Homo sapiens: one gene and its partners. The protein of the gene in region 1 interacts with the protein of each later gene in a pairwise test. Each region holds a gene or a part of one and is shown in the gene's direction. Other genes may lie near its edges.

Region 1 (4,691 bases):
TTATGTGCTTATCAATGAAATAACCCCAGAGGAGTGAGGGAAAATAACTTGTAGCCAGTTATATTCAGGAATAACTACTGTAAATGATGAACGTGTTAGGAGACCTCCAATATTTGCTACTTGCCAATCCTAATTTAGTTACAAGAATTGGTAGGCAATCCTACTTAATTTTGGCAAAAGCCCCGTCATCTAAATGGCAGAATAACTCAGAGCATGTCTTTGAAGATGCTGGGCGTCTACCACCACCTTATGTCCCCACCCTACCCAACAAAAATAAGTAAAAAGAATATGGTGTATTCTACAAATTTGTGGCATGCTCAAAGTTTATGATCACATAAAGGCAAGAGGATACTTCATGAATAATACATTTCAATGCAAATAAACAGATGGTTCACTTCTACTAGCTATGAGCCTGTTTTTGTATACACTGAGTTAATCTACTCAGGCTGTAGGTCCCAGCAATGTTCTAGAGTCTGGTCTTTCCCTTTCCTGCAGCTTCGGGTCCTTGGACCTTTCCTGTTTCCTATTACTTGGAGTGTCTGTCAGTTGAGCACCAGTTGTTCTGGTGTTTCATTTGATTCTACTTGTAGCATAATCATTTATACGAGCTATTGGGAGGTTCCAAACCCTACCTAGATTTGTGTAGGTGATGTATCAAATGAGCAATATACCGTTCATCTGAAAATAGTAGCACACAGCCATATATAGGATATCATTTTCTAAGGACTGTTTCTTCACATTGAGCAGAGCAGGCATAAATGGTGGTTATTTAGTCTAAGTCTTTTATTTTTTTATACCTGATTTTCAACATAACACGCAATGTGGATGTCGAGTAGTGTTAAGAATGGTGCTGCTCCTGACAAGTGTATGTTAACTGTTTACATTTTCTATCTGTAGAATTATTTCTCTATTACTGAACTTTTCCTAAGTAAAATGTCTTTGAAGTCTCGTTATTTCTGAAATACGTTGTCTGTAATAGACCCAGGCACCTTTTAAATTATCTCTGGAACAAGAGGGATTTCATGTAATGAACTAGGAAATGCATACTCACATAAGCAACAAGGTTCTAGGCAGAAAGCCCCTTGGAATTTGTGACCAACAGGAGCAAGAACAGGTGCGGCTCAACATGCAATGTCTGAAAATTTGCTTGGCATTTTATTCATATATTTAGTGCAAAATTATTTTTGAGTGAGATATTTTACATCACTGTTAATGTGCAATATTTAAGATTAAAATACATTAGCTTTTTTATATACTTTGAAGTAGCAAGTTTGTTTTCGATGGCTTAGAGTCATGATTTCCAGCTTCCCAGCCTTTTTATCAGTCCCTTTTCTAATACAACAAGGTGCATTAATTTGATTAGGCAAATTAGAGTTCTAAGACACTTCTTGAATTGTAGACAGAAAATATTGGATTCACAATTTCAGCAGAAATTTGAGAATGAGTGTGTTTATATTAATTTCACAATTAGCTGTATTTTCTGTAGCATAGATTATGTCACTGTTGCACTTTCACAGCAGACATGCTTTCAGAAGGTTCTCATATTTTATGTTTGATTGCTGATAAGCCATCTCTATTGATACAGATTTTGGTTAAGTAAGGAAAACCAGGTGTGTGTCTGTATCATTTATTGTAAATGCCAGCTGCCACTTGCCAACCATCATGTTCAGTTCAATTCAAAGAAAACAAACTCTCATTACTTAGTGTAAACTAAAATACTTAACAAATTATATCCTAAAAACAAGGTCTCTTTGTTAAATGTTGCATGCCCTAGGTTTTAAATTACTACATCCAAATACAGTTTTCGTCTTAAATTTGTTAAGCTAAATATATGTTGGTTCTTTTTATTTTGGAATCCTTTAAGCATCTTAAACATTTTTTTTTTGAAGAGAAGTTACAAATAACATTTCTATCAGGTAGTACTTGTATGAAACCACCTTTCTTATTCTATAATTTTGATTTTTCAATTTTATATACTTAATATACTCACTGTCTTACTATCAGAAAGTTATTTTGACCAAGATTTTTATTATCTTCATAGATTCAGAAAGAGATGCTAATTCTGTACCAATGTCTTCCTGGTTACTATTCTCTTCCCTCTAATATATACTGGCCATTTGTAAAACCATTGTGTTGTTGGGATCACTTAGTTATACTATACGCAGATAGAGCATCTCAACTCTGTCATAGTGTTTGCTGAACAGTTTTCAGTGTCATGCACCTTTGGCTGCTAATTGTTCCTGACGTGCACTCTTCCGAGTTGGTAAAGGCACAGTGTGTTCATGCCAGACTTCTAAGAGAAACACCAGCCTCTTAAATCAGAAGCCTACACACAACCCCCTTAACAATCCAAAGAAGCTTGATGGTGTGCAAAGAAGCATCCTGCCAGCCTTGTCATTGTTCTGTTCTATGCTAATCCTGCTGTGTTGTCTAAAAGATGGAGGGAAGAGGACATCAGTGTCTGATAGTGAAATCATCAGCAGGAAAGTGAAGCTCTTTCCTTGGTTACAGATAAGACTTGGTTTACACTATTGGCCAGTATCTGCTAAACATATGAAGACTTAACTATTCAGTGTTGCCTAGGCATTCGCCTGCACAACATTTTGAGGTTAGAACATAGAATATTTTCAGAAATACTGTTGTAGTTTGTGAGTGTTGTTCATTAGTTACACATTAGCTATAGAGTGGATGCATGAAGCCCCATGACACCAGTAAACTTCTCTTACCAGTAGGTAAACCAAACACCATTCTGTCATTAGCAGCCCTCTTAAATGTTGCCTCTCCGTATCCTGTTGCATTTTTGTGTGCATTGTGTTTCTACTGATCTCTCTTAGGTTTTTACGGAATCAAAGGAAACTAATTTTTCCTTAATAGCAAGAAAGATGAAGAGGTAAAGGGCATTGAAGCAGAAATGTATAGTTTGGGGTACGATTAGAAAACTCGTAAGGAAAACAGAAGTCCTAATTTCAAACTGACTGCTCTTCGTTAAGTGCTCTTAAGGAGAGTCTAGTAACAGTAACACTTTCTGGCCATTTCTAGTTTAGATTCTCTTCGTTACTGAAACTTTTGAGAAATATTACCTGTGGATTAATTTTGCACAATGTTCTATTCTCATAATGACTTACAAATTAAACTAGGTTTTTATTGAACTACCTCACACTAATTTTCTATGCTTTCCCAAGTAAGCTGTTGCCCTGTTAGATCTTTACTGAGTGAATTATAAATGTGTGTTAAATACTTTCTAGCCAATGTTGACACAATACCAGTAAGTATGTAAAGTATATACCTTACATCAGTAAGAGACACGTGTAAAATCTTTGACTGTATGTCTTGCAAAATTGTGCTCGTTGACATTATTACTGTTTTTGTAAGTAGAAACCTGCTCGTGATATCGGTCCATTTACATTTTACAAAAGGAGTAAATCTTAGTAAAAATTTTACGAAGAAATAAATTACTTTTGTAGGCCCAATATTTGGTATATTTTTGAGAAGCTGTTAATCTTTTAGCTGAATAATGAAGTTAGACTGAATTACGTGTCTCCCTGGACTGTGACATCTATTTTCTCATTACAGTTTATCCTGGTCAGCAGGGTGTCACACCTGGAAACCTGAGTATGATAGCTGACATTTGCTTTTCTCCCTCTGCGATGTCATTCCTCCTCCATTCCTCTCCTTCCCTGTGTTCCGTTCCCTCTCCTTTCCTCTAGACAAAACAAAATGGGGCACTTTTTAGGGAATGCTGAGATCATTATTGTGGTTTTTCATCATTCATGCCCTAGTCATTAAACATGCACCACTGGAATGTAAACAATGTTATCTAGTATGTCAATTGGTTATAATATTTTAAATAAAAAAGAAAAAAGTGGTATGAAAATTATGAAATTAAGAGTTTTTTCATTGAAAACAAAATCTGTTTGTGGTAAAGTTTTTCTTGGCAATTTTAGGATTGTCCGTGGATTGGGATAAAAGGGGTCTTGCTAGGGCCGGTTTCTTAGATTTGGATTTTGTACAGATTGTAAAGAGCCTAAATGATCACGCTGATTATCTGGTTGATCTGGTCTTGGATTTCTGGTGTTTGAAATTGCTGGATAAACTTTATCTAAAAAAGGAACTTTGCTTCAATGCCCTTAACCTAGTTCTTGGTAGACATATGAGAGAACAGCCATCGTGACCACTTGGCAAAAATAAGTACTTAAAATTGGGGTCTGTTTCAAAACAAGCAAGAGGTTTTAGCTTTGACTGTTTCCAACTTTTGCCATGCTTATTTCCTCTTTGCCTACGTTGGGTCTGCTGCTGTGTGGGAATACAGGGTCCCTGCAGTACCTTCCCAGCCACTGTAATGACGCCACTCCGTCTTGCACAGTTCCTGCTCCAAATGACCTTTGTACCGTGCTGTCTGCCCTCACCTGAACTCACACTGCCCTCCTCTGAGGAGCGGAGAGGAAGGGGCTGATCTTTTAGCTGCCCGCTGCTGCTGGATCAGCTGCGTGGCAGCTGAGCTGTTTCATCACCGTCATAGAGAGGCCTCCCAGGAGAAACGGTAGCAGAAGCAAGTGTCAGAATGTTGGGAATAAACTTGTTTTTACTTTTTTTCATTTTCACCAGTTGTAAAGTGGAATAATTCATCCTCGTTAATTTAGGTACTTTTTTTTTTTCTTTTTCAGTATTGTTCCTGAAAAGGTCTATTAACT
Region 2 (3,523 bases), on another chromosome or scaffold:
CCTCACCCCGTCCCCTCTGCGGCCCTCACCCCGTCCCCTCTGCGGCCCTCACCCCGTCCCCTGTGCGGCCCTCACCCCGTCCCCTGTGCGGCCCTCACCCCGTCCCCTCTGCGGCCCTCACCCCGTCCCCTCTGCGTCCCTCACCCCGTCCCCTCTGCGTCCCTCACCCCGTCCCCTGTGCGGCCCTCACCCCGTCCCCTGTGCGGCCCTCACCCCGTCCCCTCTGCGGCCCTCACCCCGTCCCCTCTGCGGCCCTCACCCCGTCCCCTCTGCGGCCCTCACCCCGTCCCCTCTGCGGCCCTCACCCCGTCCGCTGTGCGGCCGAGTCCTCACCCTGTCCCCTGTGCGGCCGGGCCCCACCTGCACGGCTCTCTGGCCTTGGTTGCAGCCTCCCCACGTGGCTTCAGGCCGTTGTTTTTAGATTAGGATTCTGCCCACCTGCCGCCTTGTGTTGTGAGGCTCCAGGCATGTAGCTCTGCTGACACGTGTGACATTGGATCCCAGAGCTGCCCCGTGGGGCAGTCCTGAAAAAACCACGCAGGGCCCGGGGCAGCGCCACGCCCCTCACGGAGTGCACCATGCATGGGCCCTGCAGAGGACTGGTGGGACCGGCCCGGCATTTCCGGGCCTGAGGTGGGCGTGGGGGTTCCTGAGACCCCGGCAGGAGCTGCCTAAGGATGCGGGTTGGCCTGCGCCCCCCCGCCCCCCGCAGTGTCTGCCCGCACCTGAACCCCTGCTCACCCCTTCTCTCTCCTTGCAGCCTCACCTGGCCGTGGGAAGCAACGACTACTACATCTCCGTGTACTCGGTGGAGAAGCGTGTCAGATAGCGGCGTGACCCGGGCCCACCAGGCCACGGCCGCCTGCTGTACATAGTGAAGCTGTCACTCGCCGGGGCACGGGGCGTCGGCTGCTGCGGCCCCGCAGTGTGAACGTTGGCTGCTGCCTTAGCTGCTGATGACGGCAGGAGGGCCCTGCTACTCGCTTTTGTCTGTCTTCGCTGTCGTGTCTGGAATGTCAGGGAAGGGGAGGGCTCGGGTTGACGGTGGCTTCCCACTGAGCACCAGCATCCAGGTGCACCCCCGCGGCCACGGCGCCTCTGTCCCTCTCCTGTTCTGTGTTTCTCTGAGACGCTGAAAGGGGAAACACCTCACTTTATTTCCATGTAATCAGAGCATTAGCTGCAGAAAAACCCCCCGACAGAGCCCTGGCGGAGAGGCAGGCGCTGGGGCTCCTACGGGTCCCTGGGGCAGCTGTCCCCATCAGGCCAAGAGCGAGCGAGAGGCGCTGCCCCAGCCAGGCCCACCACCTCTCACAGTCAGTGCACGCAAGCAGGGACATTTCCTAGCCAGCTGGGGGACACTGGAAATTCGGGAAACCAAGAGAGAGGAAGAAGGAGACGCCCCTCCAACTGGCGGGTGTGAAGGAAGCCGCCCAGGGGTCCGGGCTGTCCTTGGCCGCTGGCAGCATCACTGAGCAGGAAGCGCACAGCCCACCCTCCCCGCACCTCCAGGTCTCTGGACTCCAGTTTTGGCCCCTCTCACACAGAGCTGTCAGCAGGGGCCGCTGTGGCGGTGCACAGGGGAGGCAGGTCCTTGGCGAGGTAGCCCCTGCCTTAATCCACGGGGCTCCTTTCCCTCCGAAGGGCTGCTCTTCCCCACAGGCGCGGGGACAGCAGCCCGACCTGTGGTCTCCATGCCTGTGCCCTCACACAGGTGTAGCACACGCATGTGCAGATGGCACCACGGCCGGCACCTGGGGGCACACACATGCAGGCGGCGTGGTCTCCCTGCTCTGTCCCCACACGTTCCTCACATACAGGCAAGAGGCACTGCCGGGTCCCGGACGGCTCCGGGTGACACCAGCCCCGTCTCCAGCCTTGAGCCGCCCATGCTGATGCGACCTCGGCTGACAGCTGGGCCTGTGGTGCAGACAGGAGCTGTGTGGACAGTCCCGCCCAGGAGGGGCCGCAGGGCGTGTATGAGCAGTTTTGCAAACAGAACACAACCACAATGATGGTATTTTGAAAAGTGTTCTTTCCGTGTTCGTCGGGAATCAGGATTATTGAGAGGTGAAGGAGCCAGGTGGCTTCATTCTGGCGGTGAGAGGCCCACGACCACGGGAGTGAGAGCTGGTGTGGCGAGGCCCGGCTCTCCTGCGGTGTGGCTGGTGGCCTGCCGTGGCCAAGAGCATCTTCTGGGTGGATGGAACCCTGCCTGGTCACATTTGGCCAGAGACACACCTGGCCCTCAGGGGGCTGAGCTGGAGACTGAGCTGGGGCTGGCCGGGACGTGACAAGGCAGGACAGAGGCGGCCCCTCCGCTGCTCCTTTTTGGAATGCGAGCTCCCACCAGAAGAAGGTTCCGGCACGAATCCCATCCCCACGTCTGGGCCGAGAAAGCAGCCCGGGTCCGGAAGGTGTAGAGAGTCCCGGCCTCACTCAGCTCACAGGGCGTGCCAGGCGGCAACACCAGAATCTTCCAGAAGCCCAGCTCCACCCGCACACGCAGCTTCCCATCCAGTCCTTCAACTCAATTCTTACCCAACACGCGTTTCTGTTTGTTTTGAGACAAAATCACCACCTGTCAAAAGGCAGGTGGCTCCAGAGGGGTCAAGACCCCCCCCCGCCCCCGCTCCACCCTGGAGCCCACCCCCATGGGCACCGCGTGCCGCCTGCACGTGGGCTGTCTTCACAGGTCTGATGTGAAAATTCAATCACGACGTTAACCGGCTCGAGAGAGCGCCGGCCTAGAGGCTCATTATCTATTTATTTTACCAAACGCGAATTGAGACGGACTTTGACAAAACACGAAATGGTAATGTGAAGCTAAGAGCAGAGAGTGACCAACAGTAAACAACACGCGCAGACTCCGCGGCTGGCGGCTGTGTCTTTAAGGAAACTGCCCACCCCACCTCAGGGGGGCATCGGTCAGAGCAGAGCTCTGGGGGGTGGGGGGACGTTGCCCGGGTCCCCCCTGCTGTCCCCAGGGCCACCAGCAGCTCTGCGTCCCGGGTGCTCTCCAGGCAGGCACTGTGGCCACAGGGGGCCTGGCACGTCGAGTGTGCAAAGGTCTCGGTCCTTTTCTCCCAGGCAGTGCCCCCAGCCCTGTGGCGCAGACCCCACATCAGGGAGCGTACTGTGTGGCAAGAGCCATCTTGTGACGTAGGCCAGACACGTGTCTTTCTCTTTAAAATGACGGTTATCCTCTCACGGTTAGAGGCCCCATTCAAGTCTGCATTGAAATCTGGGCCACGTCAGAGTTCCTGGGGGAGAAGCCGCTTCCCCGCTCCTCCCCACTTCTGGAGGCCCCCACTCTCCTTGGCTCGTGGCCCCTTCCTCCAGTTCAGGGCCTCTGACCCACGCCCACCGTCACCACTTCTCATGCAGGCCAGAAGTGTTTCCAGGCCTAGGGGCCGTACCCACCTCGGGCTGTGTGGGTCCTTAGCCCTAATCACATCTGCACATCCCTCTGGCCAACTCTTTTTGGGTTTGCTTTTTGTTTTGAGATGGAATCGCACGCTGT
Region 3 (4,007 bases), on another chromosome or scaffold:
AGGGCGCTGATTGGTGCGTTTACAATCCCTGAGCTAGATACAAAGGTTCTCCACGTCCCCATCAGATTAGTTAGATACAGAGTTTCCACACACAGGTTCTCCAAGGCCCCACCAGAGCAGCTAGATACAGAGTGTCAATTGGTGCATTCACAAACCTTGAGCAAAACACAGGGTGCTGATTGGTGTGTTTACAAACCTTGAGCTAGATACAGAGTGCCGATTGGTGTATTTACAATCCTTGAGCTAGACATAAAGGTTCTCCATGTCCTCACCAGCAGCTAGATACAGAGTGTTGATTGGTGCACTCACAAACCTTGAGCTAAACACAGGGTGCTGATTGGTGTATTTACAATCCCTGAGCTAGATATAAAGACTCTCCACGTCCCCACCAGACTCAGGAGCCCAGCTGGCTTCACCTAGTGGATCCCGCACCGGGGCTGCAGGTGGAGCTGCCTGCCAGTCCTGCGCTGTGCGCTCGCATTCCTCAGCCCTTGGGTGGTCGATGGGACTGGGCGCCGTGGAGCAGGGGGTGGTGCTCGTCAGGGAGGCTGGGGCCGCATGGGAGCCCATGGAGTGGGTGGGAGGCTCAGGCATGGTGGGCTGCAGGTGCCCAGCCCTGCCCCGCGGGGAGGCAGCTAAGGCTCGGTGAGAAATCGAGCGCAGCGCCGGTGGGCCAGCACTGCTGGGGGACCCAGTACACCCTCCGCAGCCACTGGCCCGGGTGCTAAGTCCCCCATTGCCCGGGGCCAGCAGGGCTGGCTGGCTGCTCCGAGTGCGGCGCCCACCAAGCCCACGCCCACCCGGAACTCCAGCTGGCCCGCAAGCGCCGCACACAGCCCCGGTTCCCGCTCGTGCCTCTCCCTCCACACCTCCCTGCAAGCTGAGGGAGTGGGCTCCAGCCTTGGCCAGCCCAGAAAGGGGCTCCCACAGTGCAGTGGGGGACTGAAGGGCTCCTCAAATGCCACCAAAGTGGGAGCCCAGGCAGGGGAGGTGCCGAGAACAAGCGAGGGCTCTGAGGACTGCCAGCACGCTGTCACCTCTCACCAGCACTTCGGGAGGCTGAGGCGGGCAAATCACCTGAGGTCGGGAGTTCGAGACCAGCCTGACCAACATGTAGAAACCCCGTCACTACTAAAAATACAAAAATTAGCAGGGTGTGGTGGCGTGTGCCTGTAATCCCAGCTACTCGGGAGGCTGAGGCAGGAGAATCGCTAGAACCCAGGAGGCAGAGGTTGCAGTGAGTCGAGATCGTGCCACTTCACCCCAGCCTGGGCAACAGAGTGAGATTCTGTCTCAAAAAAATAAAAAATAAAAATAAAAAAATAAATGGGATCGGCCTGGCACAGTGGCTCTTGCCTGTAATCCCAGCACTTTGGGAGGCCGAGGCAGGTGGATCACAAGGTCAGGAGATTGAGATCATCCAGGCTAACAGGGTGAAACCCCGTCTCTACTAAAAATACAAAAAGTTAGCCGGGCGTAGTGGCAGGCGCCTGTAGTCCCAGCTACTTGGGAGGCTGAGGCAGGAGAATGGCGTGAACCCAGGAGGCGGGGCTTGCCATGAGCCGAGATCGCGCCACTGCACTCCAGCCTGGGCGACAGAGCGAGACTCCCTCTCAAATAAATAATAAATAAATAAATAAATGGGATCACATATGTGACCTTTTGACAGTGGCTTTTCTCACTTAGCATACCTTTGAGATTCATTCATATCTTATCGGTAGTTTCTTCCTTTTTCTTGGCGTGTGATTCCCTTGAATATGATCCCATGTATGGATGGGCCACAGTCTCTATCCATTCACTTATTGAAGGACATCTTAATTGTTCCACTTTTTAGCAGTTTTGAATAAAGCATTCATCTGCATATAGGTTTGAATATAAATTTTCAGGTGAATGTAAGTTTTCAGTTCACTACTTGAGTAAACACCTAGGAGTGGAATTGCTGCGTTGTGTGGTAAGTCTGTGTTCAACTTTATAAGAAACTGCCAAAATGTTTTCAAAAGCTGCTGTACATTTTACATTCCCACCACAATGAATGACAGTTGCTCTTGCTCTGAGTCCTCACAGATATTTGTCAGGGGTGTGTGTGTGTGTGTGTGTCTGTGTGTGTGTGTGTTTAGTTTTAGCCTTCTAATAAGTACATAGTAGTTTTTCATTATAGTTTTAATTTGCATTCACCTTTTGACAGATATATTGAACATCTTTTCATATATTTACTTTCCATCCATACATTTTCTTTTTTTTTTTTTTTTTTTTTGAGACAGAGTTTCATTCTTGTCGCCCAGGCTGGAGTGCAATGGCACCATCTCGGCTCACTGCAACCTCTGCCTCCTGGGTTCAAGCAATTATCCTCCCTTAGCCTTCCCAGTAGGTAGGATTACAGGTGCGTGTCACCATGCCTGGCTAATTTTTGTATTTTTAGTAGAAATGGGGTTTCACCATGTTGGCCAGGCTGGTCTTGAACTCCTGACCTCAGGTGATCCGCCTGCCTCGGCCTCCCAAAATGCTGGGATTACAGGCGTGAGCCACCGCGCCCAGCCACCTTCCATATATTTTCTTTGGTGAAATGTCAAGATATCTTGTTAATTTTTAAAATGAGGTTATTTTCTTAGTAAGAGTTCTTTATATCCTGGATATGAGTGCTTTAGCAAGTATGTAATTTGCAAATAATTTTCTCTTAGTCTGTGCCGTGCCTTCTCTTTCTCTTAACATTGTCTTTCACAGAGCAAAAGTTCTTAATTTTGAAAAAGTCCAATTTATCAAATTTTTTTCTTAAATTGATCAGGCTTTTGGTGTTGTATCTAACTCATTGCCAAACCCAAAGTCACACAGGTTTTCTTTGGTTTTCTTCTAAAAGTTTTATAGTTTTTTATGTTTAGGTCTGTGATCCATTTTGAGTTAGTTTTGATATAAGGTGTGAGGTATGTGTTGAGATCCCTTTTGCTTATGAGTATAAAATTGTTGAGACATTATTTGTCACAAAGACTGTAGAATTGCTTTTTGTACTTTTGTGAAACAATTGAGTATATTTGTAGGGGCTTATTTTTGAGTTCTGTGTTCTGTTCCATTAACTTGTGTTTTTATCCTTTCACAAATGCCATCCTGCCTTAATTACTGTGGTTGCATAGGAAGTCTTGAAATCAAGTAATGTGAGTCCTTTTATGTTTAAACTATTTTGAATATAAATGTGCCTCTTTCGTAGGCAGCATGTAGCTGGGGTTGCTTTATATTTTCCATTTCTGAGCTTTTGCTTTATTATTTCTTCTGGTCTATCTTCCAATTCACTTATTCTCTCTTTATCTTTTCCTAATCTACTCTTAAGCCCTTCCATTGACTTCTTAACTTTACTTATTATGCATTTTATCTCTAGAAGTTATATTTCATTTTTTTCAAATCTGCTTATTCATTTTTATAGTCTTCTGATTATTTTTCGTACTTTCATTAACCTCTCATTTCTTTGAATATATTAAATATATTTATTTTATATTCTGTGCTGACAGTTCAAATATCCTAAGTCTTTTATACCACTCCTGTTTGTTTTTTTTTGGTTTTTTTTGAGATGGAGTCTTGCTCTGTCGCCCAGGCTGGAGTGCAGTAGCGCCATCTCGGCTCACTGCAAGCTCCACCTCCTGGGTTCACGCCATTCTCCTGCCTCAGCCTCCCGAGTAGCTGGGACTACAGGCACCCACCACCACGCCCGGCTAATTTTTTTTTTTTTTTTTTTAAGACAGAGTCTCACTCTGTCACCCAGGCTGGAGTCCAGTGGTACGATCTCTGCTCATTGCAACCTCCGCCTCCCGGGTTCACGCCATTCTCCTGCCTCAGCCTCCCGAGTAGCTGGGACTACAGGCGCCCACCACCATGCCCGGCTAATTTTTTTGTATTTTTAGTAGAGATGGGGTTTCACCATGTTAGCCAGGATGGTCTCGATCTCCTTACCTCGTGATCCACCTGCCTCGGCCTCCCAAAGTGCTGGGGTTACAGGCGTGAGCCACCGCACCTGGATGATT
Region 4 (4,007 bases), on another chromosome or scaffold:
AGCTTGACAGATCATAAATGGGATAATAGTTGTCTGGGGTATAGCCTTTCCTAGCATTCAAGTATTGCTGAAGATAGAAGTTTATAAGAAGTCTTCATCAGCTCCCACAAATTTTCTTTTCGGTCTGATGCTTCTGAATCACTGCTCCTTGCCTTCTTCCTCTTTATCTCCTTGCCTTACTTCACCATTTTTACCTCACCTCTGCCTGCAGAAGTTACACTCCTGGGCAGATTACTAGGAAAGCCAACCAGAAGAATGGCTAGAAAGGAGAGGTTGTATATGTCAGGTTAATTGAAAGAAACAGCGTCATCCACTTGGCCATTCTAAAGCTTGAGTGTACGTAATGTTAGACATCAACCGTGTGGTTCTTTCTAGGACATTTAACCTCAAAGAATGAACTAGTGAGTTCTCGGCACCAGTACTTTAGTCTGACACACTATTGTAATACATAGCTAATAAAGTTAGTATGGTACTCTCTGCCCTAAAGTTGCATCTTCATTTCCCAACCTTGAAGGAGCAGCCCTATTCATTCAACAGATTGTAAGAACCTGGGCTAGGCCCCAGGTGCGCAAACATAAGGCTTGGTTCTTTTTGAGAAATGATGACAAACATAACTGCATGTGTTCTTTTTAGATGTCAAGTCTGCTTCAAGCTTTGTCTGCTTATTTTTCTAATAAAAAGGTTTTAGAAAATCTTTTAGCTGTTCCTTTGAATCTAACAATATTAATATAACTAGAGCTTTAATAGAAATTTCGTAAGGGCTAAACAAGAATAAATTAGTCACAGTGTTTTATGAATTGCATGAATTCCCATCATGAAGAGAAATTTGATTAGGCTGTGGGAAGCCAAAAATGTTTCTAAATTATTAGCACCTAGTTCCTCAATCCATTTGCCTATAAATTTGGTATAAAAACATTGCTAGTGAAATTTTAAAAATTATTTTTCTATAAAGGCAGGTCCCTGTTACTCTCTTATATTAAATAGAAATATCACAAGATGGAGGAAGGGAATAGAATTCTGAACCTTCTGTGATGTGAGCAGCCATATTGGTGGAATACAGGCCTTACTTAGAGTGGGATATTCATTGCTTGGCAATAAAGGTTAATTGAACTTTGGGTGAGAGGCTAAACTGGAACCTGTGTCATTCATTATTTTTATGGGACAAATTTATTCTGTGTTTTTGCCTTCAAGTGAACCTTTTGTACAAGTATTAAGAACTGCCTTCAGTTCCCATTTCCAACCTAAAGTGGTTGATTGGTTTGCCTTCCACAGAATATTTTTATTTTCGCCTTTTTTTTTTTTTTTTTTTGGTCTCGCTTTGTTGCTCAGCTGGAGTGCAGTGGCACAATCTCAGCTGACTACAGCCTCAAACTTCTGGGCTCAAGCAATCCTCCTGCTTCAGCCTCCCAAGTAGCTGGGACCACAGGTGCGCCTCACAATGCCCAGCTAATTTTTTAGTTTTTGTAGAGATGGGGTCTTGCCATGTTGCCCTGGCTGGTCTTGAATTCCTGGGGTCAAGCAATTCTTCTGCCTCAGCCTCCCAAAGTGCTGGGATTACAGGCATGAGCCACTGTGTCCAGCCTTATTTTTGCTTTCTTTGATTTCTGAGTTACTCAGAAACTATTTCAGGGCAGTTTAAGAAGGCTGTACTTTTTAGTGTAGGTATATGGAACATCTTTTTTTGTTTTGTACTATTTCTTTTGGACATATGTTTGTGAGCTAATTAAACTTTTCTGTTTCACTTGGTCACTGAGGTTCATAGGTTTTTCTCTTAAAAGACAGAATGGGCTTTGGTTTGGGTCACTGCCACTTGTTTGAATATTTAGGTAGTCTCCACAGAAAGTCTTTTATGTGGAACCAAAAAATTACCGTCTTTTATATACAGTAGCTTTCAGAATGCTTTCACATCATTTGACTTTTTTAGTAACGGGCTTGTGAAGCAAGCAGAGCAGGTGGTAGAGACCTGCTTTTTAGGTGGAGAAACTAAGGTTCAGAAAGAGTTCATGACTTGGCCTAAATTCGGAGCTGAAACCAGGTGTTTCTGATGCTGGTTCTGCTTCTCTTTTGCCATACTGCTTTTCATGTCATGTTTTCTGGCATTTTGGTAATGACGTTATGCTTGAACACTTGCTGAATATTAACCTCTTTTGGTTTGGGATATTAGCATTTAGATATTTACAAATTAACATATTTGGATTTTTTTCTTTTTAAATCATCCAGTTCTTCAGTTTCCCTGCTGTAGTTGCTCCATTCAAATGTTCCGTCCTCCCACTGAGCCAAAACCAGGAGTTCATGCCATTTGTCAAGGAATTATGTAAGCAAATTCAATTGGGTAAACTCCATGGGAACACCATCAAGGAGACTGAATTTTAGGAAATGTATCATTTATTTCAATAAAAATATAGACTGAATAAAGAATATAAATGATTTTATAAAGAGTACATGATTTTAGCCTGTACTCTTATTTCTAAGCGAGAGGATATGCTTGCTCAGATGTTTTATTCTGGCATTTGAGTGAGGCAAGGTAGGACCCAAGAGTCAGATTTAAAAATTATTTACTTCTCATACTGACCTTGGTGCCAAGTTCATCGAGGGAACCTGAGTGGAGTGTAGCAACCATAATGGATCTACAGCCACAGAATCCACAGCCCTGAAAGGAATCCTGGTGGTCATCTGGCACATCCACTTATTTCAGAGCTGGGAAATGGGGAGAGTCCATTGACCTGCTTAGAGCCATAAAAATAGAGGTGGTGGAGTCAGGACTCACCTTCTGGCCTTGGCTCTTGGTCCCATATTTGTTCCCCCTATAGCTGTATCAGATGGAGGTATGAGTGAAGATTTGGATTCCCGCAAGGGATTTATTAAACTTTAGGGATATTTCTTTCTCTTGCAACTCAACTTGTTGCTTTCTTGTCTTGGTCCCATTTATAAGTCTCCTGAGCTTGTAAGACAGTAGTTAGATAACACTGGGCTTAACTCCATTGTTTTATTTTTAATTTACTTTGTTTATTTTGGATAGCGGAAGCCCTGACCAGGCATGGAGTATCTCACAAAGTAGACGATTCCTCTGGGTCAATCGGAAGGCGCTATGCCAGGACTGATGAGATTGGCGTGGCTTTTGGTGTCACCATTGACTTTGACACAGTGAACAAGACCCCCCACACTGCAACTCTGAGGGACCGTGACTCAATGCGGCAGATAAGAGCAGAGGTATCTGGCCTTCTCTTTGGCATTTTTAGCCTTAGAAATGTGTACTGCTTCTTACTGATTTGTGTTGGATTTTGATGTGTTTATGCTCCCTTTCCTTTTTTTTTCTTTTTAATTTTAATGAACGGCTTGTATCAGACAGAGCCCAGATTCTCAAGTCCCCCGGTTTAATTATGAAAATATCCATTAGCACTTCTCTAATATTTTATAAACATTTGTGTTGCTCCAGGCTTATTCTCCAGCAGTTTGCTTTTATACTTGTTTGTTTATTGGGCAAGAGAAATATGATCCTAAGAATTTGTTGCCATAGTTTTATTGGTAGGCTTTGGAGGGTTAGACATTTTAATGTTTTATTTTTACAGACGCGTATACATGTGTATGTATAAGCTTTTCCGTGTTCATATATTCAAAACAGTGAATCATGTTTCAGTAGTTTTGGTCAATAGGAAGGCAGTAATGGAGATGGTAGAAGCACAGAAGGAGAAGGATGAGTGGTAAGGGAAAGGAAAGAGTAGCTGCTTTAATTGACATCTGCCTGCCTAATTTATCACCTTTGAGCACATACATCAAGTGCCTGTTCTGTGCTTAGCTTGATACAGAAGTAATAGGGAAAACAGAAGCAAAAGACTGCTTTTTTTTCTGAAGGAGTTTATAGTCTAATCCAGAAGTCGTGAATTTCTAGCTTGACTTTTTAGAGACCATCTGGCTACTCTGGAGCTGTGTCCCCATCTGGGTGTGGTTCTCAAAAGTGTGGTCCCTAGACCAGCAGCATCAGTATCCCCTGGAAATGTATGAGATAA
Region 5 (3,969 bases), on another chromosome or scaffold:
CTTGCATGATTCCCTCCTAAATATATTCCTTGATTAAGTAAATCTGGCAAATCACTGTTTGAGCTAGTTACATAAAATTTGTTATCAAGAGAAGGCTTTTCTACAAGTTTCCAGATTAACATAAAGAAAAGAGGGAATCACAGGGCATTTAAGTGCACCTTCCCATTACTTTCCTTAAATCACCTCATAGTTAGGCTGGGCGCGGTGGCTCACGCCTGTAATCCCAGCACTTTGGGAGGCCGAGACGGTGGATCACGAGGTCAGGGGACTGAGATCATCCTGGCTAACACGATGAAACCTCATCTCTACTAAAAATACAAATAATTAGCCAGGCATGGTGGCACGCGCCTGTAGTCCCAGCTACTCGGGAGGCAGAGACAGGAGAATCGTTTGCACCCGGGAGGCGGAGGTTGTTGCAGTGAGCCGAGATCGCGCCAATGCACTCCAGCCTGGGCTACAGAGTGAGACTCCATCTCAAAAAAAAACAAAAAAAATCACCTCATAGTTTATGTCTGACTTACTCCAAACCTCAGTTATCTGATTTGTAGTCTGTGTCAGGAAAGTTTTCTTCATATCTATTCTGTCTCCCTCCTCTTTGATTTTAAATTTTTTTCTTTTACCCAGTAGGACAAAAAAGAGCAGTTGGTCATCATCCCCAATATTCTTAGTCTTCAGTATGCTTCAGGCCTCTCAATGAACACTTAAGTCTCAATTCTTCAGACAAAATTGCTTAAGCTCTTCTCCTCAGTCCTATTTTAATGACTTTATATTTAAGAATATAGAATTATATTTTCTTTTATATTCAAATTCATTACTCCAGTTAAGTAATAGTTTGATAGTTTGATAGAATCGAGAGTTAAGATGTTTCTATTTGAAAGTGGATTCAACCATCAGACCACCAGCAAATCGGCACTTAATTTTTGTGTTATCTAACATTTTCTATTGTGGAATTTTATGATTTTATATTCTCATTAGTTATAACTAAAAAGCCATGCACACAGAATTGTATATCATTTTGCCATTAAAATTTTTTAACATATTGCAGCAAGCTTAGTTTTATGATTGAGCCACAACCTTTTACATATTTTTTGTATGAAATATTAAACACTAAATGCAAGATTAACTTTCAAAAGCAAACCCTACATTAATCAGGTATTATCTATGGACATTTTTGTAGACCACTTTTGAAATACTTATTATTTTGCAACATAGACTGGACTATACAACTTTCATTTAACTTTTAGGTGACTGATTTAAGTTGAGTGTGCATATAGAGAAAAACCTAGAAATTTATCTCATGGCAGATACATTTGAAAGTACTTCAGAAGAATTTATGCTGTATATTAAAACTAGGCTCAAAATAAATCTATCGTATCTTTAAAAGTCCAATTCTGTTATTACTGTGATGTTTGTAGTGTTACTATTAAACATTGTGAACATACACATTTTTAAAACAACTTGAAACCCATTTTAAAATCTGGGTAAGAGAGAAGGAATCTTCAGAACAAAATCACATCATTAGGGTGTCCAGTTTATGATTGAATTTTTAAGCAAATTACTGTATTTGAAACTACAACTTGATTTGGTTTTCAGTTTTAAAAGGCAACATGTGGGTTTTATCCATTTTATTTATACCTTTAGATTTCAGAAACATCTTCATGTTTTAGATGCATTCTACAGACATCATGTTACTTAAAAACTCAGGGCCCCTTTCATCCCTTTGTACACTGAAAAAGTTCAATTGTTAGCAAGTAAGCAATTAGATCCAGTTGAATATTTAAAGTGTTTGTTGCACAGTTCATTTAATGTTTCATCTTATTTGACTTTTTCACATAGATATAATATCAGATTTCATTAATTATAAAAAGTTGCCCAGTTCTGTAATTACTGAACAGAGGGAATGACTCAACTAATTGGCTACATGTTGCAACAAATTTAGGCCTTTAGAGTTGAAGCACTGACTTAAAACGACTTACATTTCTGTTCTTTGGTCAAATGACCATACATGATATGGGACAAATTGTTTCATTTTGTTTGTTTTTTAATAAGGGAACTTGGTAAAGTAGTTCCTGTCAGATAGGATTTTCTCAAGAGACAATTTAACGTTATAAAGCCTTCTAAAAGTGAACTAAATATTTTATAACTTTAGTAATAGCTTGGATGGTTTTGAGAAAATAACCTGTATTTATCACATTGTCAAACAGAATTTTTCTTTGAATCAGACAAGTTCAAGCTCTAAATTGATGTGCTATATACTTAAAATCCTAGGAAGTTATCTGTAACCAGTCTCTTGTCTCAGGCTCTTCACCTTGTTACCAATCCTCGTAAGTATGTAAAGGAAACATATTTTTAAAGAAGCTTAACAGTAAGAAAAAATTACTAAAAGATGCAATTCAAAGATAGGTCCCAGTTTAACACTGAATTGCTTGACTTCTGTGGCTTTTCTTTTTCTGGCCACATTTATTTATTTAAGCAATTTTTGTATGCCTTGTTATTTCATTTCCATAGAGATTATATTGTATCAGTGTTTATGTAAGCTGGAATCATCCTCAGTTTTTTGCTGATAATTTTTCAAATAAAGATACATGGATAATTGTAAAATACACTAACTCTTAGGGTGTTGTAGTAGCTGAAACATGGAGATGCGTAGCTGTCATGCTTTTTCTGAATGGACAGGAGAAACATAAGCTACGGAGTATTCACTTCTGAGGATGCTTTTCCGGAAAAAGAAAGGCTAGAAAATACTCGCACTTCCTCAGAACCCTCTTTCTTGTTAACGGGTATCTTTTGTTGGTGTGTTTTGCTCTTACATTACAGATAGACTATCATATATGACTTTATGAATAATTTCAGTTATTTTGCTTTTGTATAAGCTGTCTGAAGCCTTGCTATGCTGTATAAGTTGTGTTTGATGGATCAGTGTGAGTATAAAATAAAGCAAATCACTTTTCTTTTGTATTATCTATGGATGCCACTATGAAAGCTGACATTAAGCCACTAAAGAGTTTTCTATGAATAAGTGTAAGTAAATGCTTTGATATATATAAACCTAAATAAAAAGATTGTATTGATACAGAGACATTGGAGAAGGAGATTTTAAGGCAGTTCTTTAGGTTTAAAAAGGCTTGCTGTAAAATGGTGCGTTATTCCGTTTATTAAAGATCATATTAATGACAATAGTAATTGTGTTTTTTTATTTTAAGAGGTCACCAGAAATTGTTAGTATGATAATTAGGGAGTTTGCACTAGAATAGTAAATGTTCTATCTAATATGACTTTCATAACTCAGTATGATACATCAAAAAATAAAAAATAAAAAAAAATAAATAGGCCGGGCGTGGTGGCTCACGCCTGTAATCCCAGCACTTTGGGAGGCCGAGGTGGGTGGATCACGAGGTCAGGAGATCGAGACCATCCTGGCTAGCACGGTGAAACCCCGTCTCTACTAAAAATACAAAAAATTAGCCGGGCGCGGTGGCGGGCGCCTGTAGTCCCAGCTACTCGGGAGGCTGAGGCAGGAGAATGGCGTGAACCCGGGAGGCGGAGCTTGCAGTGAGCCGAGATCGCGCCACTGCACTCCAGCCTGGGCGACAGAGCGAGACTACGTCTCAAAAAAAAAAAAAACTAAATTTAGTATAATAGTTGCTATTTTCTGACCATGTATTATATGCCAGGCACTGTGTTAGTTATTTTACATACATTGTTGATAATTCTCACAACAATCCTACATAATATGTATTACTATCCCCCTTTTATAAATGAAGAAACTGAAAGAGAAATTAAATACTCTGCCCAGTCACAGAACTGGCAAGTGAGATTGTAACGCATTTTACGTTTTGCTTTGAACTGCAATTTTCAAGCTCTCCTTGTGGCAAGAGAAACTCAAAAATAAAAATAAAACTGGCCGGGCGTGGTGGCTCACGCCTATAATCCCAGCACTTTGGGAGGCCGAGGCAGGTGGATAACGTG
Region 6 (4,007 bases), on another chromosome or scaffold:
CATTTTAAAGATTAGGAATTGGGAGGTTAGAGATAACACACAAGCTGACTCAGAACCATGCTCTTTCCACTTCTCAAAACGTTTTATATGTGTGGGTATGTTTCCTTATAAGAATGTATGTGTCCAGGCGCAGTGGCTCATGCCTGTAATCCCAGCACTTTGGGAGGCTGAGGCGAGCAGATCATGAGGTCAGGAGATTGAGACCATCCTGGCCAACATGGTGAAACCCCATCTCTACTAAGCTGGGCATGGTGGCGCACGCCTATAGTCCCAGCTACTCAGGAGGCTGAGGCAGGAGAATTGCTTGAACCCGGGAGGCGGAGGTTACGGTGAGCCGAGATGGCACCACTGCACTCCAGCCTGGCGACAGAGCGAGACTCCGTCTCAAAAAAAAAAAAAAAAGGAATGTATACATAGATAGTTGTCTAAAGAGACTGATAGTAAAATGTTAGCCATGCTTATCTCAAGTGGTAGGATTTTGATTTTTTTTTTTTAAATATTTTAATCTGGGTTGTTTTTATTTTCTAACGTGTCATTTTTGTAATCAGAAAAAGCAAAAACTATACATTGAATCCAAAGAAGTCCGATGAAAGAGTATTTGAAGGAAAGTTCTGTGACCAAGTCATATTTTCTCTGCAGACACGTCAAGTTCTTGAGGAGCTGACTGAGTTGCCTGTGATGGTGGAACTAGCAAGTGACTTCCTGGACAGAAACACACCAGTCTTTCGAGATGATGTTTGCTTTTTCCTTAGTCAATCAGGTGTGTTAATTTTAAAGACTTAAAAGGAAGGAAAGTTATTCTTTCTAATAATTCTAGCATATCTTGGCAAAAGCTGATATTTAAAGATAAACTGGCATTGCAGATGACTTGACGAATACAGATTTATTTTAATGTTACATAATTCTTTATGAATTAGTAAAAATGAACACCTTTTGTGTTCAAAGAGCTGGATTTTCAATGACAGAGAAGGAAGAGAGATCCTGACAAGCCATATTACTTAAAGTTTTATAAATTTATTAAGTGGATGTTTTGTATTTTATTTAAAACAAGTAATATTGTTGAAAGTGTGGTCAATTTGTTTTTGCTCCTAAGAAACAGCATATGTTAAAACTGTTCTGTGTGTTATGGTTGGCCTACTTTTTACACAGGTGAGACAGCAGATACTTTGATGGGTCTTCGTTACTGTAAGGAGAGAGGAGCTTTAACTGTGGGGATCACAAACACAGTTGGCAGTTCCATATCACGGGAGACAGATTGTGGAGTTCATATTAATGCTGGTCCTGAGATTGGTGTGGCCAGTACAAAGGTAAATTCTTGACTCATTTCTCTGATGATTATTTAATCATAGTGTCAGTGAAGCAGACTAGTCTGTAGACTAGTCTGTATCTTATTTTTGTTAGCAGTTATAGAACTCACACATTTTATTTTTGTTAGCAGTTATAGAACTCACACATTTTACTAATCATTGTAATTATTGTAGGACTTTAGGGTCAGATAGATAAAAGACTTGTCATTCTCTCCCTCTTCCTGATAGAGTTTAAAAGGGACTTATGTATATAATGTAAGTCCATTTTGAAAAGGTCTCTGCTGGCTATCCTTGTCTATCGCTTACTGCCCTCCTGCTAGGCACAGTAGGATACATAACAAGTATATAACATCCCCTTCTTTTATGAAGTATAGTCTGGAATTTGAAAAGTAACAAATTAGAAACATCCACTTTAACCATTTTTGGAATTTTTATTTACCTATTTATGGTTTCTAATAAATAATGTAAAAATATACATACTACCTCTGAAAGTTTGTAAGGAGGAATACACCTTTGGTATAAAATTTGGCAACTGCCAGGCATGGTGGCTCACGCCTGTAATCCCAGCACTTTGGGAGGCTGAGGCGGGCGGATCATTTGAGCTCAGGAGTTCAAGACCAGCCTGGCCAACATGGTGAATCCCGTCTCTACTAAAAATACAAAAATTAGCCAGGTGTGGTAGCACGTGCCTGTAATCCCAGCATACCCGGGAGGCTGAGGCAAGAGAATCACTTGAACCTGGGAGGTGGAGGTTGCAGTGAAGCGAGATTGTGCCACTGCACTCCAGTCTGGGTGACAGAGCAAGAGTCCATCTAAAAAAAAAAAAAAAAAAAAAAATTTAAAATTTGGCAATTAAAAAAAATTTTTTAATGAGTATTGTATGACAATATCTTTCTCTTTAGATATTGCTCTGGGGAGGTTTAAAGGTACTGTCTTGTGTTTTGAAGGCCTGGTAAGACTACTTTGCTCTTTGGAATTGGAATATGCATAAATTTAGGTGGCTAATAAAAATAGGAAATCTTAGAAAGTTGTATAAATACAAGAGATGTTATCCCTCCACAAGTGTTTTTTTGGGGTTTTAGGTTTGTTTGGTTGTTATTTAGAGACAGGGTCTTGTTTTGTCACCCAGGCTGGGGCTGGAGTGCAGTGACAGGAATCATAGCTCCCTGCAGCCTCAGACTCATGGGCTCAAGTGATCTCTGCCTCAGCTTCCTGAGTGGCTGGGACTGCAGATGCACCAGGCTAGTTTTTTTTTTTTTTTTAAGATGGGGTCTCACTATGTTGTCCAATGTGTTACTTTTTATGATTTCACATTTTTGTTTTCTCAATATTTTTCTACTTAAGTTTGATATTTCTTGCTGATTATCTAATAAGATGTTGGGATATTGGTGGATTTGAGTTTAATTAAAGGATTGTGAAAGACAATGTTAATGTGTACATAACTGCATTTGAATTCTTTTCCCTCAAAGATTCTCATAGAGAATTTTTTGTAGAAAGTTTGTGATTCTTATATAAAAATTCTTCTTTTCTTTTTCTTTTTCTTTTTTTTTTTTTTTTTGGAGACAGACTCTCACTCTGTTGGCCAGGCTGGAGTGCAGTGGCGTGATCTCAGCTCACTGCAACCCCCGCCTCCTGGGTTCAAGCGATTCTCCTGCCTCAGCCTCCCAGGTAGCTGGGATTACAGGCACCTGCCACCACGCCTGGCTAATTTTTGTATTTTTGATAGCAATGGGGTTTCACCATGTTGGCCAGGCTTGTCTTGAACTCCTGACCTCAAGTGATCTGCCTGCCTCAACCTCCCAAAGTGCTGGAATTACAGGCATGAGCCACACTGTACCTGGCCCCCCACCTTTTTTTTTTTTTTTGGAGACAGGGTCTCTCCTCTTTATCATCCAGAGTACATAGAGTGCAGTGGTGCTCATGGCTTACTGCAGCCTGGACCTTCCCAGGCTCAGGTGATCCTCCCACCTTAGCCTCCTGAGTAGCTGGGACTACAGGTACAGGCCACTACCCATGCCTGGCTAATTTTTGTATTTTTTTGTAGAGACGGAGTTTTACCATGTTGCCTAGGCCAGTCTCGAACTCTTGGGCTCAAACGATCTGCCTGCTTTGGCCTCCCAAAGTGCTGGGGTTACAGGCATAAAAACTCTTGAGTGAGATTTTTATTTCTTGGGTATTTCGATATTGCTAACACTATAATTTACAGAGTGCTGAAACTTGAATTTTCTCCATATGGTAATTAAAACGTGTTACATGTTTGTGCTTGGGTTTCCATCCTGTGGCTGAATAAATGACCAGCCACCTTTAGTAGCACTTAAGGATTTGATTGGGGGATTGGAATCCCAGAGGCTCTTTATTTATAACAGATTGTGAAACAAGGGCTACAACGTGGTGTATGTGGGATATGGGATTGTTTGGATGGATGCCATTGACTTAATCTTTTCATAAAATGTTTCTGGAATTGTGAGCTGCCAAGGGAAATATATATTTTACATTTCTCATTCCTTTGTTTATGAGAACTTTAATTTGCCTCAACATTTTATGATGATGATTTTCAAATATACAGCAGAGTTTTAAAAATTTTACATACAGGCTGGGTGCAGTGGCTCACAACTGTTATCCTGGCACTTTGGGAGGCTGAATTGGGAGGATCACTTGAGGCTAAGAGTTCAAGACCAGCCGAGGCATCAGAGTGAGACC
Region 7 (4,490 bases), on another chromosome or scaffold:
CCTCAGGCTGGCCAGGGAAGGGAGCTGCAAGCGCTTATTAATCGCCAACGGTGTACTCAGCTCTGAGGCTGGCAGGAAGACTGAGTATGGAAAGGGGGAGCCCCAAACCCCGCTCAGCATCCCCTGCTGCCCACAGTACTCCCCACCCCCAGCCATCACCATTGGCACCCTGAGCTCCGTGGTCCTGGTGCCCACTGAGGGTTCTGCGGTCGTTGCGCCAGCTTCATTTTCTGTGGCCCTTCATTCAACCAGCGGCCGAAGCCCCCTTCAGAGCCCCAGGGTGACCCTGGGGGGCCCAGGCTGGCTGGGGGCTCGGGGGCAGAAGGCGGATCCCCCCACGCTCCCTCTCCACCCGGCAGCGGGGAGGGGGCCTTTTAGAAATGTCTAGGGTGTCTCGTGACAACCCCCCCCCGCCAAAAAATCATTACTTTCAAAGGCTCCCAGGCTCCTGGGCAGGGGTCTTTGTCCCCTTCCTCCAGGACAGCGAGGCCTCCCCCGCCCTCCCCCTGCAGCGCGAGTCTGACCCCCTTGCTCCCGCCCAACACCTGCCGAAGGTGCAATTACCCGTGCGTTCTTCCTGCCCCGGACTCGCCGCGTCCCCGCCGCACGCGCGGAGGTGTTCCCACAGCGGTCGGCGGGGTGCGGCCCCTCAACAGCCCGCACAGGGGTCGTCGGGGCGGCTTTCCACGGAAGCGGGAGGGCTGGGGGTCGTGGGGGGTCGGCGGCGTCCTGGGGAGCCCGCCCCCGGAGTTCGCGGATGTGTGACCCGAGGCAGCCGGCTCGCCTCTGAGGGTCCCAGGTCCGCCCGAGTGCAGGGGGATCCGGCTCCGTCCTGCGGGGGTCGCGGCGGGGCGAGCACAGCCGCTGCAGGTAAAACGCCGCGCCTGGGTCTGGGGAGGGCTCCCCGGCGGCGGCCCAGCGCCAACAAAGGCCAGGAGAAGGGGGGAGCGGCGCCGGCGCCTGTCCGGGTCGGGGGGAGGACTTCGCGCCCGGAGCCGCTCAGCTGGACCGTCCGGGGTCTGTGCGACGCGGCCGGGGGCCCGGGTGACGGGGGGCCTGGGTGACGCGGGGCCCGGGGCCGGGAGGGCTTCCTGGAGGCGGGGTCCCGGACGCCGCGTGGTCCCTTTAAGAGCCGGTCCCGGGGTGAGGGCGGAAGGCGGCGGCGGCGCGACCCACCCGCACCCTGCACCCCGCCCCCCCCCCGCGGCAGCCGCCTCAGCTTCACCCCGAGCCCGGGCTCCGCTGACGTCACCTGCCCCCGAGCCGCGCGCGCTGATTGGCTGCAGGTGACGTCAGGGGCTTTTTTCGCTCGGCATGACCTCATCCCCGCCGGCGGCCCCGCCCTCCGCCCCGGGCCTGTCACTCGCGGCCGAGCGCGGCGGCCGAGCCGGCTCCCCCCACGACGCCCCGCCGGACGCCGGACGCCCGAGCCCGAGCCCGAGCCCGAGCCCGAGCCGCGCCGGAACCTCCCGGCCGCGCCCGCCGAGCCGCGGGGCTGGGATGCGCGCCGCGAGCGCGCGTGCCCGCCCGCAGTGCGCGCGCCCCGGCCCGAGCGAGCGCTCCCCGCGGCGTTGGCGGCGGCGACGGCGGCGACGGCGACGCGGCCCGCGCGCTCCCCCGGCCCCTGCCCCGGCTGCGCGGGCCCCCGCCGGGCCCATGGACGGCGCGGCCGAGCGGGCGCCCTGAGCGCGGCGCGGGTCCCCGGAGCGCCCCCGAGGCGAGCGCGAGCGAGGTGAGCGGAGGCGCCGGCGGGGCGGGGGCGGGCGCCGGGGATGGGGTTCACCGGCCCGGGCCGGGGGGCGGAGGGCGCCGCGTCGGGGGCGCTGGGGCAGCGGCACCCGGTGGGCGCCCGGGAGGAGGAGGCGGCCCCGGAATGAGCGGCCACGGCCGTCCAGGACGCCAGGGACAGGGAGGCCCCTTCCCCGCCCCCCGCAACGCCCGGCGGACCCGGGCCCAGCCCACGCCCGCCCGCCGCGTTGCCGCCCTTCTCCCCGCAGCTCCTTCTTTGGGTGTGGAATGGGGGGGGGACAAAAATCCAGGACCCACCAGGGCCGCCTGAGATCCAGCGCGGATCTGCGCGAGCCCCCGACGTCCCGAACGTCACCCCCGCGGGGGCCAGAACCGGAGCAGGCGGACCCTGGCCCGGAGTCGGTCCGGGAGGTGTGGAGCCTCGGCCGTGGGAGGGACGCGACGGCCTCTGGCCTGGGACACCCGGGAAGGGGCCTTCCCCTGTCGGGGGGGAGGGCTGCAGATCCATCCCCCCAGTGTCCAGGCCGCACTGCCTCCCCATCCCGGGGTGCCCAGCCGGCCCCTGAGGGATAAAGCCCCCGCGCCCTTCCGCCTGCTGCAGAGGCAGCCGCGGCGCTGGGGGAGGGGCTGGCACAGCCAGGCTGCTGCAGCCACCTCGCTAGGCCCAGCTGCCCAGCCTGGGATGCGGAGCAGACCAGGTGGGGATACCTAATAGTCTGGCCTGGAGGGGAGGGGGCAACAATAGGCCCAGCCCCAACAGGGTCACCCCTTCTGGGAGAATCTGCCTCCGTCTCCCTGCTGCGGGGTGTACCGGCCTCTGCTGAGGGGAATAGGGGCTCTGGTGCTGCAGTGATGGGGGGCGGGGACACTGTGGGATGGAGGAGGGGGTGGCAGGATGTAGCGTGGCTCCGCAGTGCTCTTGCTGTGCAGCTTGGGGTGGGGGTGGGGTGCTGCAGGCCAGGGAAGCTCCTTTTGTGCCCCAGCGGGGGGTCTGAGGGGAGATCCAAACCCCGGCACTCTCCCTTGCCTCCCTTCTGGCACAGCCCACCCAGAGACACTGTTGCACCTAGGGCGGTCCAGGGGTGAATGTAGCACCCCAGGCCCCAGCCCTCCACCAGGAGGACAGTCCCATGCATTCACTGCTAATAAGCACTGGATGCGGATGGCAGATCATGTGACCCCAGCTGGAAGTTCATCCTGAAGTCTCGCTGAAATACCTCCTGCTGCAGCCAGCCGGGGGCTGCACGAGTGTGGCTGGGCAGGTTCTATTCCCCTGGTATCCTCTGTCCTCGGGGAGGCTTCTGGGAATAAAGTCCCATTAACAGAGGTGCAGAAAGACGCTTAGAGTCAGTCTCTGCTCCAGGACCCTTCTCTTCTCAGGCTGGGGCTGAAGTCAGGGCCTAGAGGCTGCCACTGGACAGGTGCCTCGAAGGGGCATCAGCTAGGGCCTGGGGAGACCTAGGTGTCACTTCTTGCAGAAGGCAGGGAAAGGGGCAGACCCACAGTGAGAGAGAGGTGGTTGGACTCTGGCCATGAGAACTGCACCCGCTGAGGCCCCCTCTGCCGGAGTTGCTCAGGGCAGTGAACCTTGGAAGCGCCACACTGGTCCTGATGTTTAGCATGTGGCACAGTGACCAGGAGGAGGGACACAGGTCTGGTGGGAAGGGAGGGAACCTGGATATGTCCGGCTCTGAGACTCGACTGTCACGGCCCCTTGTGCCAAGTCCTCCCATCCCCTGCCCTGCCCGGACCCCGTTCCTGGGATCGGAGGGAGCCCCCCGCCCCACCCCACTTTCTCCCAGGTCCACAGCTTCCCCAGGCCAGCGGAGCAGAGTGTAGGCCAGCTTGGGTCCTACAGCACTAGCCAAGGGAGCTGAGGGGAGGCAGGGATGAGGGCATCTGGGGGAGCCCAGTGAGGGAAGATGAGCTGACCTGTGTGAGTGCAGGGTCCCTGCCTCCCAGAGTTGCCACCCACCAGTCTCTCCTCAGCCTCCTTAGTGTGACGATTTCTGCCTCCAGAAGCATCCCTGGGTAACAGTGAGCCGGACAGCTCCAAGAGCCTGCCTAGGTGTGAGGGGGAGACACAGTCCCATCCCCCCATGCTTGACAGTCCTGGCAGCTGTCTCTGAAGGTAGTGAGTCCCCATTTCTAGGTGCTGAGCAGAAGGTAACATGGTAAGGATGCTGTCAGTTGAGAGCTGGGGGTGGCCTGGGACTCCCTGGTCCCGTCTGTGCTCAGGGACAGGAATGTGCTGCACAGAGACGCTGGGTGTGGGAGCTCGTGTTTGTAAGGAGTCTGAAGCTGACCCCTCGGGTACTGGAGTCCTGGGGTTCTCAGGGGATCCTGCATACAGAGGGCAAGGACGTGCGTGTACTCTAGTGTATGTCCAGCCCACGCGTGTGCACATATTCACGCGTGGGTACTTGCACACAGGGCAGGTGGATTGTGGGTAAGGAGCACCAGCCCTGTGTGTGGAGTGGGTGTGCAAAGAGGTGTGTTCTGGCACGCACAGAGGGCAGTGTGCACGCAGCACTGGAGCCAGGCGTGCTGTGTCCCAGGGGAGGGTGGCGGCCTGGTGCCTCCTGGAAGGTGTGGGCCTGGGAGGAGCCTTCTTCTGACTTTGGACTTGGAAACTGCTTCCTCCTGGGCTCAAAGACTTTTGAAAAGGGTGTATGGGGCTGTGCTAGGGGGCATCCTGTCCCCAGCCCTGCCTCTCACCCCCCAACCCCTAGGCACTGGAA

What was found.
Region 2: the proteins of MAPK8 (region 1) and RPTOR interact in binary tests that used the Homo sapiens proteins (3 or more experiments, as listed by UniProt).
Region 3: the proteins of MAPK8 (region 1) and ZNF605 interact in a two-hybrid assay, tested with the Homo sapiens proteins (one large-scale study listed by BioGRID).
Region 4: the proteins of MAPK8 (region 1) and GARS1 interact in a two-hybrid assay, tested with the Homo sapiens proteins (one large-scale study listed by BioGRID and IntAct).
Region 5: the proteins of MAPK8 (region 1) and BMPR2 interact in a two-hybrid assay, tested with the Homo sapiens proteins (one large-scale study listed by BioGRID and IntAct).
Region 6: the proteins of MAPK8 (region 1) and GFPT1 interact in a two-hybrid assay, tested with the Homo sapiens proteins (one large-scale study listed by BioGRID and IntAct).
Region 7: the proteins of MAPK8 (region 1) and DUSP8 interact in binary tests that used the Homo sapiens proteins (3 or more experiments, as listed by UniProt).

Annotation. Positions count from the first base shown.
Region 1 is NC_000010.11:48,435,479-48,440,169, forward strand, and holds the end of MAPK8 (mitogen-activated protein kinase 8), read left to right. Parts: 3' UTR 1-3,882; downstream 3,883-4,691. UniProt on the Homo sapiens protein: Serine/threonine-protein kinase involved in various processes such as cell proliferation, differentiation, migration, transformation and programmed cell death.
Region 2 is NC_000017.11:80,963,502-80,967,024, forward strand, and holds the end of RPTOR (regulatory-associated protein of mTOR), read left to right. Parts: intron 1-760; coding exon 761-829; 3' UTR 830-2,867; downstream 2,868-3,523. UniProt on the Homo sapiens protein: Component of the mechanistic target of rapamycin complex 1 (mTORC1), an evolutionarily conserved central nutrient sensor that stimulates anabolic reactions and macromolecule biosynthesis to promote cellular biomass generation and growth.
Region 3 is NC_000012.12:132,935,607-132,939,613, reverse strand, and holds part of ZNF605 (zinc finger protein 605), read left to right. Parts: intron 1-4,007.
Region 4 is NC_000007.14:30,629,228-30,633,234, forward strand, and holds part of GARS1 (glycine--tRNA ligase isoform 1 precursor), read left to right. Parts: intron 1-2,220; coding exon 2,221-2,314; intron 2,315-3,019; coding exon 3,020-3,210; intron 3,211-4,007. UniProt on the Homo sapiens protein: Catalyzes the ATP-dependent ligation of glycine to the 3'-end of its cognate tRNA, via the formation of an aminoacyl-adenylate intermediate (Gly-AMP).
Region 5 is NC_000002.12:202,564,573-202,568,541, forward strand, and holds the end of BMPR2 (bone morphogenetic protein receptor type-2 precursor), read left to right. Parts: 3' UTR 1-3,177; downstream 3,178-3,969. UniProt on the Homo sapiens protein: On ligand binding, forms a receptor complex consisting of two type II and two type I transmembrane serine/threonine kinases.
Region 6 is NC_000002.12:69,335,198-69,339,204, reverse strand, and holds part of GFPT1 (glutamine--fructose-6-phosphate aminotransferase [isomerizing] 1), read left to right. Parts: intron 1-639; coding exon 640-760; intron 761-1,149; coding exon 1,150-1,307; intron 1,308-4,007.
Region 7 is NC_000011.10:1,569,143-1,573,632, reverse strand, and holds the start of DUSP8 (dual specificity protein phosphatase 8), read left to right. Parts: upstream 1-1,361; 5' UTR 1,362-1,732; intron 1,733-2,680; exon of another isoform or gene 2,681-4,490. UniProt on the Homo sapiens protein: Has phosphatase activity with synthetic phosphatase substrates and negatively regulates mitogen-activated protein kinase activity, presumably by catalysing their dephosphorylation.